Linked DNA regions of Homo sapiens: region 2 is reported to be linked to region 1. The links are microRNA targets in miRTarBase. Many come from high-throughput screens and were not tested one by one. Region 1 holds a microRNA gene; the other region holds the end of a gene's coding sequence. Distances are between the middles of the regions.
Evidence for each region. Region 1 holds the annotated microRNA hsa-miR-181c-5p (AACAUUCAACCUGUCGGUGAGU, at 1,555-1,576, shown strand). A microRNA usually pairs through its seed, bases 2 to 8, with sites in the 3' UTR of a target mRNA and lowers its output. Matches are read on the target gene's strand: a 7mer-m8 pairs with bases 2 to 8, a 7mer-A1 pairs with bases 2 to 7 and ends in A, and an 8mer does both.

Region 1 (4,150 bases):
TTAGAGGGAGTGTGTTCTGGGGAACAGGTCAAAAGCGACGGGGCTCTAAGGGGCAGGGCCTGGGCTGGGGCCTTGGCTGGTGGCTCCAGACTGTGGGTGGGGCTCTCGGGGGCGGGGCTCTCGGGGGCGCGTCCTCGGGGGCTCGGCCGGGTTCCGTTGCCACCACCGTGAGGGGTGTGGTGGGGGGGTGGTTCACGCAGCTCGGCACACTTGGGGGTCCCTCATCTACCTTGGGGTTATGCCAGGCGGTTATTTTGGGCCTCAGTATTCCCCTCGGTGAAATGCCAGGGGCCAGGAAATTACTTATTTTTTTGCGACGACGGGGTCTCGTCCTGTGACCCAGGCTGGAATACAGTGGCGCGATCACGGCTCACTGCAGCCTCGAGCCTCGAACTCTTGGGGTCCAAGCGATCCTCCCATCTCAGCCTCCTAAGTAGCTAAGACTACAGGCTCACTACACCACACCCAGCTAATTTTTTTGTAGGGACAGGTATCTCGCTATGTTGCTCAGGTTGGTCTCCATCTCCTGGGCTCAAAAGATCCTCCCGCCTCAGCCTCCCAAAATACTGAATTACAGGCCTGAGCCGCAGCACCCGGCCATGCCGGGTGCACCTTCCTAGGCCGTCCGCAGACCCAGGTCAGGGGCGAAGGCGCGCTCGCCCATCCCTGGTCGTCACTGCTTGGCTTGCGGGGGGTGGGAGATAGGGGTGCGTACCTGTAGGCCTGGGGGCACCCGGGGCGGGGGGGTGGTCGCCGAACTCTGTGCGATCACTGGAGGAAGGGACTGGGGGTCATTTGAGGGATGAGGAAATGGAGAGGGGGCGCCGCAGCCGGTTTTGAGGCCCAAGGGGCAGCCCCCACGTGGCTGCGCGGACTCCCTCCGGAAGTGCCCGAGTTCAGATGCTGTGTGACCGCGCACGCGGGGCGAGCGGCGCCCTCTCTGAACCTCCTGCCTCTCCCCTGTCTAGTGGGGCCCCAGTGCACTTGTAAAGTGGAGAGACCTGACGACCCCCCACCCCCAAGCGCTCCACTCACGCTGTTGTGATTCCTAAACCATCGTGCCCGGAACTCAGTGAAGCTCCCAGAACGTATTACATTGTATTAAAATGGCTTGTTTATCTCCACGTTGCATCAATGCCCTCGGGGCCAGGATCCTCCGTTGCCAGACTTCCCGGGAACACTTGGAATGCCTCCTCCACCTCGGACTAGCAGTGGCCTTTGGCCTCAGTCTCCCCAGTTGACAAAGGGGGGTAATCTGCACCTCCAGGATCACTTTGTGAATTACTTAAGGAGCGGGCTTGAGGCCAGCACTCCCCTGCACTGCTACATCTCCATCCCCATAGCAAAGGCTACATTTTATTTACTAGCATTTATATTTGCCTTGTGTTTTTCCCAGATCTAGGTGCAAACAGCACCTGAAAAGCGTTTGTTTATTTCATGAGAGAAAAGGGGTTCCTTACTCTCTCCTCCTCTCCCTCTTCATGCTCTCTGGTTCCCTGCCACCTACCCCACCCCCGACTCCAGGTCCCGGAAAATTTGCCAAGGGTTTGGGGGAACATTCAACCTGTCGGTGAGTTTGGGCAGCTCAGGCAAACCATCGACCGTTGAGTGGACCCTGAGGCCTGGAATTGCCATCCTCCTGCCGGTGACTCTGACCTTCCAGATCTAGGGGGGCCTGGGGAGCCCCCAATCCAGCCTGGGCACGTCCCCTCCCCTAGGCCACAGCCGAGGTCACAATCAACATTCATTGTTGTCGGTGGGTTGTGAGGACTGAGGCCAGACCCACCGGGGGATGAATGTCACTGTGGCTGGGCCAGACACGGCTTAAGGGGAATGGGGACTGGGGACAGGACCCCCCACCGCCACAGTCACTCAGCCTGTTTTTTGCCCTGACCCCAACCACTCCTCTTTGGAGAGGAGAGCTGGTGTCTGGAATCTGGATGGGCTCTGGCTGGATTTGGGACTAAATATTAGAGGGTTGGGGGTAAACAGGCTGGGGCAGGGCAGCTAAAATCCCCTTTTTTTTTTTTTTTTAAGACAGAGTCTCACTCTGTTGCCTAGGCTGGAGTGCAGTGGCCCAATCTCAGCTCACTGCAACCTCTGCCTCCAGGGTTTGAGTGATTCTCTGGCCTCAGCCTCCCAAGTAGCTGGGATTACAGGCATCTGCCACCACAGTGGGCTAATTTTTGTATTTTTAGTAGAGACGAGATTTCACTGTGTTGGCCAGGCTGGTCTCAAACTCCTGACCTCAAGTAATCCTCCCCCCTCGGCCTCCCAAAGTGCTGGGATTACAGGCATGAGCCACTTTGCCTGGCCTAAAACCCCTTTCTGAAATGTGGGTGGTAAGTTCTGCTCCGTGGAGTGCTCCATAGTTTTGTTTTTTAAATTAGAGACAGGATCTCGCTCTTGTCACCCAGGCTGGAGTGCAATGGTGTGACCTTAGCTCACTGCAGCCTCTAATAACTGGAGTCAAGCGTTGATCCTCCCGCCTCAGCCTCCCCAGTAGCCGGAACCACGGGCACGCACCACCACACCTAGCTTATTTCGAAAAAGTGTTTTTGTAGGAACAGGGTCTCAAAACGTTGCCCAGGCTGGTCTCCAACTCCTAGGTTCAAGCAATCCTCCTCGGCCTCTCAAAATGAGCCACAGTGCCTGGCCAATAAAAGTTTCTTAAATGAATGGATGGGTGGATGAGCTGTGTAAGCGGCACAGCGTCTCTCCTCTGTGTCCAAGTCCTGAGCACACCCTCCCCTCCTGGGACTGAGCTGAGATCTCATCTCGGGGAGGACACTGAAGACCTGTAGGTACTAGGGGTCCCCTCCTAACAGCCCAACTTGCTATCCCCCACCTCCCAACTCCAGAGGGTTCTTTCTCACCCCTCTGCAGCCCCCGCCAGGAAAGGGCTCCCTCCCCAGCACCTAGCCTCAGGGGGCCCCAGTAACTAGAAGAAGGAGGCAGATGTGGTGCTTTTTGTTGTTGTTGTTTTGAGACAGAGTCTTACTCTGTTTCCCAGGCTGGAGTGCAGTGGCTTGATCTTGGCTCACCGCAACCTCTGCCTCCTGGGTTCAAGCAATTCTTCTGCCTCAGCCTCCTGAGTAGCTGGGATCACAGGCACCCGCCACCATGCCCAGCTAATTTTGTGTGTGTGTGTGTGTGTGTGTGTATTTTTAGTAGAGACAGGGTTTCACCATGTTAGCCAGGCTGGTCTCGAACTCTTGACCTCAGGTGATCCGCCTGTCTTGGCCTCCCAAACTGTTGGGATGACAGGCATGAGCCACCACTCCCTGGCCTGGTGCATGTCTTTATAAATAACTGGATGGGCAGGTGGCTTCACACCTCAGTTTGCTCATCCATTCAATGGGGGTTCCACTAAGACAACCGATGTGAAAACTCTTGGAGGGAGACCAGAGCTGGGGGCCGGGGGGCATGATCCTTCCCCCCTACCCCCGCAACCAGCCCATGAGCCTGGGACTACCACACTCCTTTCAGAGACAGCTGGAGCATCAGCAACCTCCCGCCTGGACACACACACACACAAAGAACCCAGGGGCACCTGGCCACTCCCCCGCCCAGGGGAAGGAAGAAAAAGTTATAAAGAAGTTACTAAGTTAACTTCTTTAAGTTACTGGTAACTGCTAGTCTTTGGGGGTGGGGTTTCCAACCCATTCTCCCCATCCTCCAGTGGGGCTGGAGGGCTAAGGACTCCTACAAGGAGGGGAGGCAGGGTAGCCCCCCAATTCCCTGGAGGTGTGTACGGGGGGCTGTGGTGCACCTCGCAGGATGCCCCCCCACACACCCTGTGTCCTGTAGTCCCCCGGCACAGCCAGAGGCCATACAGCCCTTTAGGAGGAGTATTAGTGGGGCACCAGGCCCCCCTGTGACAATAAGGAACCTCCCACAGCCTGCTCCTCCCTCTTCACACCCCCTTGGAGGTAAAAGGAGGGTCGGCCAGCACAGACTCCCAGGCTCCAGAGAGGGGAAGGAAGGGGCAGCAGAGAGGGGTCAGAAGGAGGGAGCTTAAGCCAGGCAGGGTTACTTGTCTCTGTGACTCCTTCCGCCTGGCACATGCTGCCCAGCTATGGGGACCTTTGACCTGTGGACAGATTACCTGGGTTTGGCACACCTGGTTAGGGCTCTGAGTGGGAAAGAG
Region 2 (4,000 bases), 2.0 Mb from region 1:
AGTTCTCCAACTTGCAAAGGAGGACTGATATTTTGCTAAATCTTTGTAATTCACCAATTTATCTACTATACTTTGTTGTGGAAGTTTATTCATTTTTCTCAAGCTGTAAGAAAAGATTTTCCCTATTTCTTTTCCCAAAGCTAAACCCACCAACATCACTGACTTCCAAAATTAGTGGCCTTCCTGGCATACGAAGATCCTTTGGGCCTGTGCTCCAGTGTCCTCTTTGGGGTGCTCCTTGGGCTCTTTGTGAAGCATCAAGACACCCCAATATCTAGCCTAATGTCAGGCTCTCCAGTGTGTCCTGTTCATCACCCTCACCCTGCACTTCTATTGTCACTGTCATTGGCTATTCCAACACTGTGCTTGCATCCTGTGGAAAGTCACATTTGGGGTCAAGTGAATGGTGTTGTTTCTACTCTTTGGTGAAAAGTATCAGGGTGCATTTGGCCTTCAATTCAGAAGGATGAGGCAGGGGTTGGATTCAGGTGCACCCAACTTTTTTTGTGTGTGTGTGATGGAGTCTCGCTCTGTCGACTAGCCTGGAGAGAGCAATGGTGTGATCTCAGTTTACTGTAACCTCCACCTCCCAAGCTCAAGCGATTCTCCTGCCTCAGCCTCCTGAGTAGCTGGGATTACAGGCACACACCATGATGCCCAGCTATTTTTTTGTATTTTTAGACGAGACAGGGTTTCACCATGTTGGCCAGGCTGGTCTTGAACTGCTGACCTCAAGTGATCCACCTGCCTCGGCCTCCCAAAGTGCTGGGATTACAGGTGTGAGCCACCATGCCTGGCCAGGTTTCACTGCCCTGTCTTCCCTGTTCTGAGTTACTTTGTGTGATCCGACAATCAATGACTCCTCCCTTCACTGATGTGGATACATTATCTGGGACTGGGTGTGTCACCTCCACACACAGACAGGGCTTGGTCAGTGATTGATTCTGCATCCTGTGGTGCCTAGATTTAGACTATAAGGATTTTAAATAACTGTTTCTGAAGAGCAGCTTCACTGGACCTTACAGGAAGTGACAGAATTGTTCTAGCCATTGCATTATATATAAAAGTGACTTTTCCATGTTACCGTTAACTTTACACTGCTGAGATAAGCAGGCTGTTGACAAGTTAGCATCAACAGCACATTATCAGAGGAAGAAAGGCTTTTATTTAGACAATTTACACAAATTTATTAGCCTCCTATGACTCAGTAAAGCAATTTGAAAAAAATATAGCTTTATAAAGCGTAAATGAATTTATATATTTTAACTAAGGTACCTTCTAGTTAACAGTGCCCATACATTTTAGAAAATGTTTTAGTCTTTACAGAATAAGTAAGGCAAAAACAGGTCCAGAAGTCTATAGCTGACCTCCCCTCACCACAAGGCCAAGTTGTTTTTGTTTTTGTTTTTGTTTTTTCAGAAAGAGTTTCGCTCTTGTTGACTAGGCTGGAGTGCAATGATGGGATCTCGGCTCACTGCAACCTCTGCCTGCCAGATTCAAGTGATTCTCCTTTCTCAGCCTCCTGACTAGCTAGGATTACAGAAGCATGCCACCATGGCTGACTAAGTTTTGTATTTTTAGATGAGACAGGGTTTCATCATATTGGTCAGGGTGTTCTCGAACTCCTGACCTCAGGTGATCTGCCTGCCTCAGCCTCCCAATGTGCTGGGTTTTCAGGTGTGAGCCACCACACCCAGCCAAGGCCAAGTCTTTTACTGTTGGAGAGACACATGTTACATATCAGGCATATGAGATGATGCTCCTCAGTGATCATGATGGACCAGGACAAAAACAAGGGCATTTTGTAACTGTATTTCTAAAACTGATAGAAGTAAACATATTTCAAATCATAAACATGACGAAAATTTTTATCTTCTTACCAATGTGACTTGTAATTCTCATACATCCCACAGTCATTTATGTCTTCTGGTCATATTTATCACTATGGTATATTACACCCTTGCTGACAGCAGGTATGGCGCTGCTGGTTTTGGGCAAGAAGGTACTCAGAGATACATGAGATAACTTTTGGTATTATGAGTGAAAGAAAAATTAGGGTTGAGGCTGGGCGCAGTGGCTCATGTCTGTAAATCCAGCACTTTGAGAGGCCGAGGCAGGAGGATCACAAGGTCCAGAGTTCGAGACCAGCCTGGCCAATATGGTGAAACCCCGTCTCTACTAAATAATACACATAATTAGCTGGGTGAAGTGGTGCATGCCTGTAGTCCCAGCTACTCAAAAGGCTGAAGAAGGAGAATTGTTCAAACCTGGGAAGCAGAGATTGCAGTGAGCCAAGATCACACCACTGCACTCCAGCCTGGGCAACAGAGTGAGGCTCTTTCTAAAAAAAAAAAAAAAAAAAAAAGAAAAAGAAAAAGCAAAAGGAAAAAAAAAGAAAAATTACAGTTGAAATAAAAATTAAAGTACATAAGCATGAAAAGTAAAGTTTACATGAGGAAAAATATGCCTGGCATTTAATCCAGGTAATGCTGATTCACAATATCCAAATAATAACAATGTAACATTATAAGCTTGATCTAATACATGACACCAATGGATATTTTATTATAGCTTCTTAATTATTTAAAAAGAATAACATTTGTTAGTATACAGTTATTATAAACAGTTAATTGTTTACATTCATTATTTGTATTCAAAGAATCCTAGCCGATCTGAAGGCTTTCCCATACTGCTTACATTCATAGAGTTTCTGCCAAGTGTGAGTGCTTCCATGCATTTGAAGTCTTGAGGCTGATCTGACGGCTTTCCCACATTGCTTACATTGATACGGTTTCTCCCCAGTGTGAGTCCTTTCATGATATTGAAAAGAACTGGAAGAAGTGAAAGCTTTTGCCACATTGCTTACATTCATAGGGTTTCCTTCTGGTGTGTCTTTACATGTCTATGAAAGCAATTAAGCAAGCTGAATGCTTTCCCACAATCCTTACATTCATACGGATTCTCTCTCGTATGAGTCCTTTCATGTATATGCAAGGAAGAAAAATAATTGAATGCTTGTTTGCATTCCTTACATTCATAGGTTTCTCTCCAGTGTGTGTTTTGCATGTATTCAAACGATCTTGGCAGATATGAATGCTTTCCCACAATGCTTACATTCTTAGGGCGCCTCTCCTCTGTGCAACTTTCATGTATTTGAAAAGAAGAGAAATTATGGAACGCTTTTCCACATTTCTTACATTCATAGGGTTTCTCTCCAGTGTGTGTCCTTTCATAAATTGAAAGGTTCTTGACAGATCTGAAGACTTTCCCACATTGCTTACACTCATAGAGTTTTTCTCCACTGTGAGTCCTTTTAGATATCGAAAGGAACTGGAACAATTAAGGCTTTACCACATTGCTTGCATTTATAGGGTTTCTCTCCAGTGTGAATTTTTTCATGTGTTTGAAATAACTTGGCAGAATAAAAGTGTTTCCCATATATCTTATATTTATAAGGTCTTTCTCCAGAGTGCATTCTTATGTGTTTGTGTCCTTTCATGAAATCGAAAGTTCTGGACATATCTGAAGGCTTTCCCACATTTCTTACATTCATAGGGTTTCTCTCCAGTGTGAATCCTACGATGGATTCGAAGTTGTGAGGCAGATCTGAAAGCTTTCCCACATTCCTTACATTGATACGGTTTCTCTCCAGTGTGAGTCCTACCATGCAATTGAAGATTTGGGGCAGATCTGAAGGCTTTCCCACATTGCTTACACTCATAGGGTTTCTCTCCAGTGTGAGTCCTTTCATGATATCGAAAGGAACCGGAACGAGTGAAGGCTTTACCACATTGCTTGCATTTATACGGTTTCTCTCCACTGTGAGTTTTTTCATGTCTTTGAAATGACTTGGCAGAATAAAAGCCTTTCCCACATGTCTTACATTCATAAGGTCTTTCTCCAGAGTGCATTCTTATGTGTGTTTGAAAACTTGTAAGAGAGGATAATGCTTTCCCACACTGCTTACATTCATAAAGTTTTTTCCTAGAGTGGGTCCTTT

Region 2: miRTarBase lists ZNF439 as a target of hsa-miR-181c-5p. Seed matches in the 3' UTR shown: 8mer at 3,195-3,202, 7mer-A1 at 3,112-3,118, 8mer at 3,030-3,037, 8mer at 2,946-2,953, 8mer at 2,864-2,871, 8mer at 2,695-2,702 and 1 more.

Annotation. Positions count from the first base shown.
Region 1 is chr19:13,873,171-13,877,320 of GRCh38, forward strand. MIR181C (microRNA 181c) reads left to right here and starts at 1,529; the gene lies at 1,529-1,638. It overlaps NANOS3 (nanos C2HC-type zinc finger 3), which reads left to right and starts at 3,964. Exons shown (of 2, transcript NM_001098622.3): 1 at 3,964-4,150. The coding sequence starts at 4,079. MIR181D (microRNA 181d) reads left to right here and starts at 1,705; the gene lies at 1,705-1,841.
Region 2 is chr19:11,868,019-11,872,018 of GRCh38, reverse strand. ZNF439 (zinc finger protein 439) reads right to left here. Exons shown (of 4, transcript NM_001348719.2): 4 at 2,533-4,000. The coding sequence ends at 3,450. It also overlaps the pseudogene VN2R14P. Among named protein-coding and RNA genes, the nearest start is that of ZNF69, 18 kb to the left of the region's middle.